2 separate regions of the Homo sapiens genome follow, and region 1 is linked to region 2. The links come from fine-mapping of genetic effects on gene expression. A gene starts in region 2. The other region holds a variant in brackets. All regions are shown on one strand. Distances are from middle to middle.

Region 1 (5,364 bases), 51 kb before region 2:
CACATAAACATGTACACACACTCCCCACAGACACACACAAAGGCGCTGACACACACAGACATATACAGAGACAGACACCAACACACGTCCACCCTAACATGCTCACATACACAACACAGAATGAAGCCTTCCTCTGAGGAAGGCGAGAGGCTGTGCCCACCCTGAGCACCTCCATGGGGACGACTCTCAAGACTCCTCCCCCATGCGCGCCCGTGCCCCAGTTACCCGGAGAACACTGACAAAGGCGTCCAACTGGGCCTCCAGGGGACTCCCTTGCTCGGGCAGGGGCAGGCGGTGGTACCTGCCAGGTGAGGGAGAGCAGCCATCAGGCAGGCACCCACTCTGGGAATCCCCCTCACCCCCTATTCCCGGGCACTGTTTGGAAATGGGCCCCACTGTGGGAGACATGGGTGTGGGGGACTCCGCCCAACCTGCAGATGGTGAAACTGAGGCTGCAGCTGGAGAGCAGGACCTGGAGCACCCATGGCCAGGGCTGGGGGTGGCCCTGTGGTACCTGTAGGTGGGCTGCAGGAAGAGGGGCCGCTTGTACACCTCCTCCGTCACATGCAAGTCGTCCTCACCATGGATGGCCACAGCATGGGGCTCCCCCCACAGGTCCTCGGTGTTATGGTACACATGGTATGTGTTCTCGCTCAGCTGGGCAAAGTCGTGGATCTAGAGGGAGGTGTGGGGGTCAGAGGGCCATGGCCTGAACTTCAAGACCCTCCCTGAGTGTCCTGGCTGAGCTCTGGAGTGACCAGACCATGCAGAGGCCACAGGCAGGCTTCTGCCCCCCATGAGGGAACTACACAGCCAGAAGTGCTCTCTATGCCATTCCTGGGAGTTCTGAAGGAATCGGGGTGCCTACACAGGGGCAAGGCAGGAGGGCTCTGCCCAGTGGGTGCAGGAATTCACAAAGCCACCAGTGCCAGGACGGGGGAGGTGTGGTCAGCTGGGAGCTGGAGCCGAGGGGAGCAGAGCACACAGGAGGCCTGGAGGGGATGGGAGAGGCAAAGAGCTGGGCGCCGGCATGGCCTCGGTTCCTGACCTGGAAGTTTCTGGGGACACTGGGACCCCACACTCTATTCACACACCTTCATGGTATGTCAGCTGCCTCAGAGGCCTCCACAAGCCTCTGTGTTATGGAGGAGGAGGAGGACAGAGGATACTGAAACAGGCCCACAGACCCACTGAGGGAACTGACTCAGAGGCTCGTGGCTCTCAAAGCGTTGAACTGCAGCCTTGGTCCTTCTGGTCTAGCGCTCTTTTCACTCACCTAGAACCCTTTCTTTTTCTTTTTCTTTTTTTTTTTTTAGAAAGAGTTTCACTCTGTAGCCCAGGCTGGAGTGCAGTAGTGTGATCTCGGCTCACTGCAACCTCCGCCTCCCAGGTTCAAGCAATTCTCCTGCCTCAGCCTCCCGAGTAGCTAGGATTATAGGCATGCGCAAGCACGTCCAGCTAATTTTTTGTATTTTTAGTAGAGACACAGTTTCACCACGTTGGTCAGGCTGGTCTTGAACTCCTGCCCACCTCGGCCTCCCAAAGTGCTGGAATTACAGGTATAAGCCACTGCACCCGGCCCACCAGACCCCTTTCTAAATAAGGACATTGAGCATCAAGGAGACAAGCAGGGTGGGAAAGGGGCAGAGGCAAAGAGAGCTAGAATAGGAAGTCCTTCCTCTGGCTGCCCGTGAGTCAGCCTTGCAGCCAGCCACTCACCCAAGCAGGGCACAACAGTGGGGGAACACGGGCCAGTAAGAGCAGGTGAGCTGGCCCCAAAAAGAGCATCTGCAAAGCTGGGCTGTGGGCTGGGGTCTCCCGCACACCGCACTGGTCCTCACCTCTTTCCGGATGGCCAGCTCCAGGCTCTCCACCCGGACCCCGGGTCCAAGGCCCTGGAGGTTCTCATGAAGGTTCTGCTTGTCTCGAGGTGTGTAGGACACAAAGTCCTCATCTGCACGCAGGAAAAGCACAGGTTCCTCCCGCACACAGAAGATGACACACTCCTGCCAGGAGCCCGAGGGGGAAGGAAGCCATCATCATGATCCCGCACAGACACCTGCACCACTGCCCCACCTCAGGGCCTCTGCCCAAGCTGTTCCTTCCTCCTGCACCCCACACCATCCCTGCAACCTGAATCCTACCCAAGAAACAAAGCTCAGTCCAAATGCTACCTCCCTGTGACCCTCCCAGTCAGCAGTGACCCCTGCCTCCTGTCAGGGTCAAGAGTCCTTCATATGAATCTCTTGGCGTTAATTCCTGCTTTGTACTATCAATGAATGCATCTTTTCCCCCTTAATGGACCACAGGTTCCTCGTAGGCAAAATCATGTCCTGGTCATTTTCATGTACCCATAATTCCTAGCATGGTGTCCTAGCATGGTGTCCTGGATAAATCAGGTGTTTGATGAACATCAGCTGAAGAAATGAATGCCCCATGACCACGCAATCATTCATTCACTGAGCACCATACAGGCAGAGGGAAATGTGTGGGCAGATGGTCCCCTTGAGGAACTTATCATCAAGATGGGAAGATGGGACCTGCACACAGCCCACACCCCCACCCCATTCTGTCTCACTCAAAGCCTTTCCACCTTAACTCCGGGGTCAATTCAGATGCAGCTGCACTCAAGAAGCCTACAATCGCAGCAGACCCTCAGCCTGTGTCCTAGGGACACGCAAAACCCTGCCTCAACATCCGACAGGTAAGAACAGTCCTTGAAAGCAGGCACTTGGGAATTCAGCTGCCTGGGTTTGGGTCTTGGGGTACCACTCATGAGCTGTGTGACCTTGAGCAAGTCACTTAGCTTCTCTGGGCCTGTTTCCTCCTCTGCAAAATGGGAGACAAACTGCCACTCCATCACAGGGCTAACATCAGGACTTAAGTGTTAGCTGTGATCACCATTCAGCAAGCTGTCAAATTATGAGCTGGCTCCTCCTGTCACCCGGTCACGCCCCCTGCTTCCTCTGAGGCTCCCAAGTAGGGTCTATGAAGGCTTCTGACCTTGTGCCCCGCCATCCACTCAGGACATGCAATCAACATTCACCAGAATTTCCCAACCAGACCAACAGCAGTGACCATCCTGGCAGGCAGGGCCTGGTCCAGGCCACTACCCCACCTCTCCAGCATGCAGCAGGCCCCTCCAGCGCCTCTAAAGCTGCCCCTCCAAGGTGCCCCTCTCCCTGGCTTTGGGGACCTGGCTTCTGCCTGGGAAGTGGCATACTTACCCTATGTCCGTCCTTCTGGAGTTTCTGGAGGACCCGCCTGAACCCT[G/A]AGAGGCTGGGCTGTCCCATGCCGAACACAGTGAGCCCACCCTGCACCTGCCGGAAGTTGGGGGCCCCACAGCTTCCCACGGTGCCCAGCACATCCATCTTCTCAGTGACATCCCGCACCAGGAAGTAGCGGCCCTGGCAGGGGAGAGCCACAGGAAGGTCACTCAGATGGCTCAGGGGTATTTTCTGCAGATGGAGCTCTGTCCTGGGCTCCAGGGGACAGGGAGGGGGGAAATAGGGGCAAAAAGAACATGATCCTGCCCTCAAGTTGCCTGCAGTTCATGGAAAAAACAGACAAAATATATAACTCTCTGTGATCTGGGGAAGGGTATCATAAAGTGTAGGAAAAGGAAAGACAACTCCTCCAGAGGGGACATCAGAGAGGGCTTCATGTGGGAGGTGACGTCTGAGCCAGGCCTGGAGGAAAGAGCAGGGAGAGGCTCTCCAGAGGCAAAGCTGGCTCTAGGGTAGGAGCTCCCCTGGAAGGGGCTTTTGTAGGAAGGCAGAGCTGGGGCACCAGGAATCAACCAGAGGATCACGGTGCTAGCTCCATCCTAGGGCCCTGCCCGTTCTGAAAATGGGCAGAGAGACGGGGAAAGTTGGGGAGGGCCAGAGGGAGGTGAGGGAGGGAATTCATGAGAGATAGGGGTGGGAGGCAGCAGGCGGGCTGGCAGGGTAAGGCCTGAGCTCACTTGCACCAGGTAGTGCTCAGGGGTGTTGTCCGAGAGCCGGCCCAACGTGTAATGAGCCTTGAGCAGCTCATCATGGATCTGGAACTCCTCCTTGCAGTTGTACCTGGGGGGGGGGGGGGGGGGCAGAATGGAAACTGAGTCAAGCAACCTCCTTGGTCAAGGCCAGCTCCACCCTCACAGAGCCCACCGCAGGAAAACCCCTGTGGCTACGATTTGTGGCAGAGACTGCCCATTGTCCCTCAATATCCACTCTTCCCTTCTTCCTCAACACGACAGCCCCAGGGCTGTGACTGAGGACTGAGCCACCCAGCTGAAGACTACATTTCCCAGCCTCCCTTGCAACTCATTGTGGTCACATGATTTAAGTTCTGGCCAATGATGTGAGGAAAAGTGATGTGCGTGCAAATTCCAGGCCATTCCCAAAGAGAAGAGGTGCCTTCTATTTTGTCTTCTCCCCTTCTGCCTGGCTAAAATCCAGAAGTGATGGCAGAGGTAGAACATCTTAGATCATAAGACGGAAGCCACATGTTGATGATGTTGGAGCAATGAGGGAGAAGGGGCCTGGATGATCACGGAGCAGCCATCCCAGCCTGGATGTCCTCGTGGACTTGCATGTAAGAGATGAGCTTCGTCCTGAGGAAGGCATCTTATCTGGGTTACTTTATGACAGCGGCCTAGCCTGTACCCTGAAGAAGACAACATCACTGGATGGTCCCTCCATCAGATTGTATTGGAGGGACAGTCCCTACACTGCTAACTCCACACACAGTGAGGTGGTTTAGAACGCAGGCTTGGGGCATGAAGCCCAACTCCACCCACCGCTTGGTAACTCTATAGCTTTGGACAAGGAGCTCATTTCCAGGAATTCCTACCCCCAAGACTGTCCTGAGAATTAAATGTGCTAATGATTGTAAGTGCTTAGCCCAGTGCCTGGGGCACAGTAAGCATTTATTAATATAATTGTAGTTCTACCTCCACACAGGGCTATTTCAAACAAAACCCACAGATAAAAATCAAGATTTCTGTAGATGCTAAACCAGGTAAAAGTCCAAACACTCAAACAAGATTTACTGTGCCCTCAAGACACAACAGCTCCAGTGCTGATGATAACAATGAATATGACAGAGCCTCCCAGAGTTAATGATCTGATGTTAGGTCCTCTTGACAAAAGAAGTGCCTTCATATACACCATGGAATACTATGTAGCCATAAAAAATGATGAATTCACGTCCTTTGTAGGGACATGGATGAAGGTGGAAACCATCATTCTCAGCAAACCATCGCAAGGACAAAAAACCAAACACCGCATGTTCTCACTCATAGGTGGGAACTGAACAATGAGAACACTTGGACACGGGAAGGGAAGCATCACATACCAGGGCCTGTTGTGGGGTGGGGGG
Region 2 (5,364 bases):
GGTTACTGACCCCACTCTAAAGATGAGGAAACCAATACATTAATTGACTTGCTGGAGGTTGCATGGTGCATTAGTATCAAAGCATATCTAGAATCTGGGCTGTCTCTCAGGTGCCAGGTTGGGCAGAGGAGACCTGAGCATAGCCAGGTGGGGGACCCCTTCCCTGTGCAAGCCCACGGCTTAGCAGAGAAGGAGCCCGCCCCAGAGGGCAGTGGCTCTCATCACAGACGCAGCTACATGTGTGCTCTCTCTCTCACCTGGGGGATCCCTGTCAAAGACCCGCAGGCTTGGGTTCAGAAGGAGAATCCCCAGACAGTTCCTCTCCTATTCTGGTAGGAAAGGAACAGTTGGAGCACCCTACCCAGGCCACACAGCCTCACTTCAGGAAGCCTCTGGAGATCCAGGGAAGATGAGAATCAAAATTCAAAGAGCACCTGCTGGCACTTAAGGCACAAACACAGCCTTGTAATGCAGAGGTGGAGAGGCCAAATGACTCTGAGTAAAACACAGGAGACTGAGCTTTTTGGGGTCCTCAAACCCCAAAGTGAGAGTCTAGAAATAAGCTCCACCACAGAGCACCTGTACCATCACCACCCCAAACAGGACAACTTCCGGGCACTGTGCCACGCAGGGAAACAGTGATAACCAGGCAATGCACGCCTCGGCCTACCTCTCAGAACCCACCTGTGTCTGGTTCCTGGCCTCTGCTGTCCGCTGGCTCTGGCAAGCATATGTGTCTGTGCCCCCCAGGAGCTCACAGCCAACTCCATTCTGCCCAGGCACTTGAGCGGCTTCCCTGTGGCTCCGAGTCTTTTGTCTGGGAATGTCGGTTCCCATCCCCGTCTGTGCTCTGCTGGGTCTACCTATATGTCTGTCCACTTACATGTCTGCCTCCCATGTGGGGAGATTCAGATCCCAGCAATGGTGTATTTCTATGTACGTGTCTGCAGCCCATACGTGGCCCACGCTGATGGGTTCATGTATGTCTGTCCCCGCACATGTCTGTGTCCCTGGGTTGTTTGCTCACCCCCACCATCCTCCTGTGTCTGTCCTCAAGTATATATGTATCCAGCTCCTCTACGTCTCTGCCCACACAGATGTAAACCTGAGCACACACACGCACTCACGTCTCTGCCCACACGGGGCATCCCCCACAGGTGCCTGGGTAACCCAGGTCTGTGCACCACCTGTTTGGAGGCAGGCAAGTGTGTTCACACAAGTTCTCACAGTGCCAGCCAAGGGCTTCGGGTGAGCTCAGCAACTCCCACTCCCAGAACTGCACCCAAGGCCACGAGCATGAGCACACTGCCACCTCCACGAAGTGCTCCAGAAAAACAGAAACCTGCCAGGGACAATGAGGGAGGGGGCAGGGCCCCAGATACAGCAGAGCCTCACAGAAGTGAGGTCAGAGCTGTGCCAGGAACCACCCACCTCAAGCCACCTGGGCCCTACTGTGCCCACCCCCAACACTGGCCAGGAAAGGGAGGGGGGTGCATGCACCACCTGGGGTCTGTCTGCACTCATAGGAAACTGGCCCAGTGCCTGCCAGCCTCCCGACCTACCCCAACCCCCCGCGACAGAGGCTCTTCAGAAAGGAAGTGAGGACTTCCTCCTGCTTACCTCTGAACCTCCTACAAGGCTGGCTCTAGACCCCAAACCCCAGGAGCCACAGGGCAACTAGGAGTGTCCTGTGCTCAGCCCAAGCCAAGAAACCAAATGGGTTATTTCAGAAATCCACCAGCAGGAAACAAACAAACCTGGGAGTGGGTGGGGATGAGTGCAGGAGAACCTCCTCAGCGCCCCTGCTGCTCCCTGCCCTTGGAGCAAGGTAATAAGGAAGGGCGGGCATGGAGCTGGAACATTTCAGCACATTTGCTTGCTTGCATGGAACTGGATCTCTGCTGCCCTGGCACTCTCGCAGCCTACATTACTCACATAGCAATTAATGGTGTGTAGCCTCTTGGCTTTCCACTATTACCAGTTCAGGACTGGTATTGAAACCCTGTATCGGGGAACTTTGTGTGTTTATGTCCTGTCTTGCCCCCAGGGGCTGAGCCTCCTGAGGACAGAATCCTCCAAATCCTCCTCCATCCACACATTCCAGGGGCACGGCCCAGTGCCCTTCCTGGCATTTAAGAGGTGCTCGGCCACTGGGTTCAGGTTACTCTACCCAGAAGCCAAGGAGTTGGTTCCTGGGCCTCTGGCTGGGAGAGTAGAGATGCCCAGAAGATTCCCTGGGCCATGAAGCTTTACTCCCATCTCTGACAACCCAAGAGAAAGGGCTCCAACCATCCCGGCCACCTTCAGGAGCCGGGTCTCCCATAGGCCACTCTCTCTCTGACAGGTTACTGCCCCTTCAGGAAAACCCTCTGAAACTGAAAAACGTACTCTCCTTGGAGACCCGGGCCTACAGAGGAAGAGGGCCAGACTGGGCCAAGAATCAAAGCCTGTGCCCGCTGAGACTTCTGGACTCGTCCTGGGTCTGAGGGCCTCACGCCCCCTAGAGATGAGTCCCAGGACCCCATCTCGGTCATGAAGCGGCTTCCCTCTCCCCAATCTCCCCCTAACTTCGCGGGAAACCCTAGCTCCTGGCCATGCTCCCAGGTCTGGCAATGAAAAGTGGAATTGTCACCAGGCCATGCCTACACCAAACCCAGGGAACTCGGGAGAGGGGGTAGCCCAGGGTCCAACACACACAACCACCCAGCAACTGCTCCCTGTGAGTCCCTCTTGCCTCCCAGGGACCAATCCTGAGCGGGTGTGGGGTGAAGGCCCAGGACCTCACCTCTCCAAAGGATGGGGAGTTGGTGTCTGGAGCAGCCTCGGGCTGGGGGGTGCCCGGGGGATTCCAGATTTGCCCTCCCCTCGCCAGCCCCAGGGCAGGACACTTCGGTACCTGCCAGCCCGCGGCTCCGGGGGGCATCCGTGCTCCTGCGGCCGGCGTGCTGCGCCCGAACTGCGGGCGCCGAGTCAGGCAGCGACGGGGCGCGCCCGGCGCGCGCTCTGGCTCCAGCTCGCTCCTCCCAACTTCGCCAGCCCATGCGGGGGCAGAGGTGGCTCCGGAGGTGGGCAGGCCAGGCGGACCCGGCGAGGCCACGCGAGAGGGAGCCCGTGCTCACCGGCGACGGGACCTGCGCGCCCCGGCCCGTGCGCGCCGCGCTGCTCCCCAGCGCCCCGCTACCCAACGCCGAGGGGCGGACCCGACCCGGCCGCCAATCACCGCGCCCGCCCCCGCCCGGACCGCGAGTCCCGGCCCCACCGCGAGGGGCGGGGGGCTCAGATTTAAAGACACACTCAGCCCAGCCGCAGCCCCCGGGCGGGAGGAACGCGGGCGCCACGTTCCCCGGCTGCGCTTCCTCCCTCCGCCCGCCCACCCTCCGCGAGGAGGAAAAGTTTGGGGCGGGGGAGACTGCCCGGGAAGCCAGTTCCTCTTCCCTCGTCGCTAGTGCGGCTCCTTCTGGAAGACACCCAAACCCGACATCCAGCCTCCTGGCTGCGAGAGGCAGCAGCGCTCTGGGCGCCACACCCCGTCCCGGACGCCGGCTACCCGCGACACCCGCTGGCCCGGCTTCCCTCGCCCCCCTCTGCTTTACAGCCAGGCCGAGCCTCGGCGGGACCGAGCCCAGCATCCGGGCTCCGGGCCGGCCTCGCTGTGCAGTGCGGCCGGAGCTGGATGATGGTGCGCTCTGCACTTTTGCCTCCCACGTGTCGAAGGGGAGCCCCTAAACAGCAGACGGTCCCCCCAAGCAGGGGCTTCTCCCACGCCCCGGGGTCCTAAGGAAACGCGCCCCTCGGCCCCCAGAGGTGAGAGGGGAACAGCAGAGCAGAGCTTTGGATGGAGAGGGGTCCCTCCGCCCCCACCCATCATGCGGCTCCAGGCAGTGACCCGCACCATAGGCCTGCCCCCCCCACCACTCCTCACCCCACACGCGCGGACTAGCACTAGGCGGCAGCCAGCCCGGCCCACTCCGACGGCCCCGCACGCCCCCGCGAGCACGTGGGTGAACGCACCCACGTGCGTGCGTTCACTCTTCGCTGTGCTTCCTCGCGGAGAGATAGGCTTTGTTGTGGTTGGTGAGTCACTTCCTCCCTCTCGCTGCTCCACACTCGGGAAATCCTTTTTTCTCACCTGTTACCACCTGCCTCACCCCCATTCAGGACTGGAGCTGGATTTCGGCGAGCTGGGGTTGCCCCAGGATGCAGGCAGTGTAGGCCCCACCTCTGTCAGGCTGGAGAGCGCTGGGCTGGGAGAGGGGAACACATTCCCCATGACCCCTAAGAATAACTGAAGACAAGAGAAATCACTCATTGTGGTGGTCTCACCATGTCCCTAGCACCTAGCTCTTAAGTGCCTCGCGAAGTTATAAGGTCGGTACTTTTCTGATCCCTATTTTAACAAATGAGGAAACAGGCCCAGGGAAGACTTGTCCTCAGCTCCATACCTGCTCCTGCGCCACCCAAGGTGTGTGAAAAGGACAGCAGCAGAGAAAATCCCATAGTGGCCTTGGGAAACAGACCTGACCTTCAGAGTTCAGCAGAGCTAGGCTCAAAGTGGCTCACAATTTACTGGCTGTGTGGTCTGGGAAAAGTGACGTAAGTTCTCAGATTCCCAACTTCTACATCCATAAGATGGCTTCATCCTCCTTCAAAGAGGTATTTGAGAAGCCAGTGAGCTGGGCAAGTAATGTCCAGGCATCGTGTGTGGCACACTTTAGGACTCCATCCTGGGCCACAGTTTCCTTCCTTCTTCCTCTTGCCACAGCCCCATATCCCATCCCACCAGCTGTCAGACTCCCCAGCTGAAGCCTGCCATCCTGAGGATGCATTCCAGGATAATGTCCTCTTCTAGGCCAGGACTAAGGTAGGAGCAACATGTGTGTGAGCAGGTGCAAAATATACATTTACATACATGTGCATGTGTATGCACACATGTATACACATACATGCACATATATGTATACAAATATATACATAAACATGCATACCTATAGGGATGCATGCACACATATATACATACAGAAACATAGCACATACACATATGCACATAATACACACATACAAATACACACACTTTGCTTCCCCTCACCCTCCCTGCCCAGCAGATGCTGGGATCCACGGCGGTGTGCCTCTCTAGCTCCCAGAGAACAAAAGCTATGTCCTACCTGTGCCTGACCTGTCTTTTGGCCCACAGCACAGTGCCTGGCACGTCTCCATACATTCATTTGTACTCACCACACACACAGTAGGTGTTCTTGTTGAACCAAGCAGAAAAGCCCAGGACAAAGATGTTCTCAGGACAGCCTGCAGTCACAACCCTTCTGGATCTAACAGTTAGCCTCAGGGTTCAGCTGGTAGGTAGGGGGC

What was found. PIP is the estimated chance that this variant, and not a neighbour inherited with it, causes the effect. A credible set is the group of variants that fine-mapping cannot tell apart.
Region 1: its variant is the best candidate, but not a certain one, in a credible set for the expression of PALD1 in skin (TwinsUK, PIP 0.68).

The regions. Positions count from the first base shown.
Region 1 is chr10:70,527,932-70,533,295 of GRCh38, reverse strand. PALD1 (phosphatase domain containing paladin 1) reads right to left here. Exons shown (of 20, transcript NM_014431.3): 3 at 3,965-4,067; 4 at 3,228-3,407; 5 at 1,842-2,006; 6 at 515-675; 7 at 226-301. Among named protein-coding and RNA genes, the nearest start is that of PALD1, 52 kb to the right of the region's middle. RefSeq lists an enhancer at 3,642-4,559. The variant G/A (reference allele first, on the strand shown) is at 3,274.
Region 2 is chr10:70,476,592-70,481,955 of GRCh38, reverse strand. PALD1 (phosphatase domain containing paladin 1) reads right to left here and starts at 3,189. Exons shown (of 20, transcript NM_014431.3): 1 at 2,897-3,189. RefSeq lists enhancers at 575-1,216, 1,394-1,573, 1,217-1,859 and silencers at 2,854-3,303, 3,504-3,573.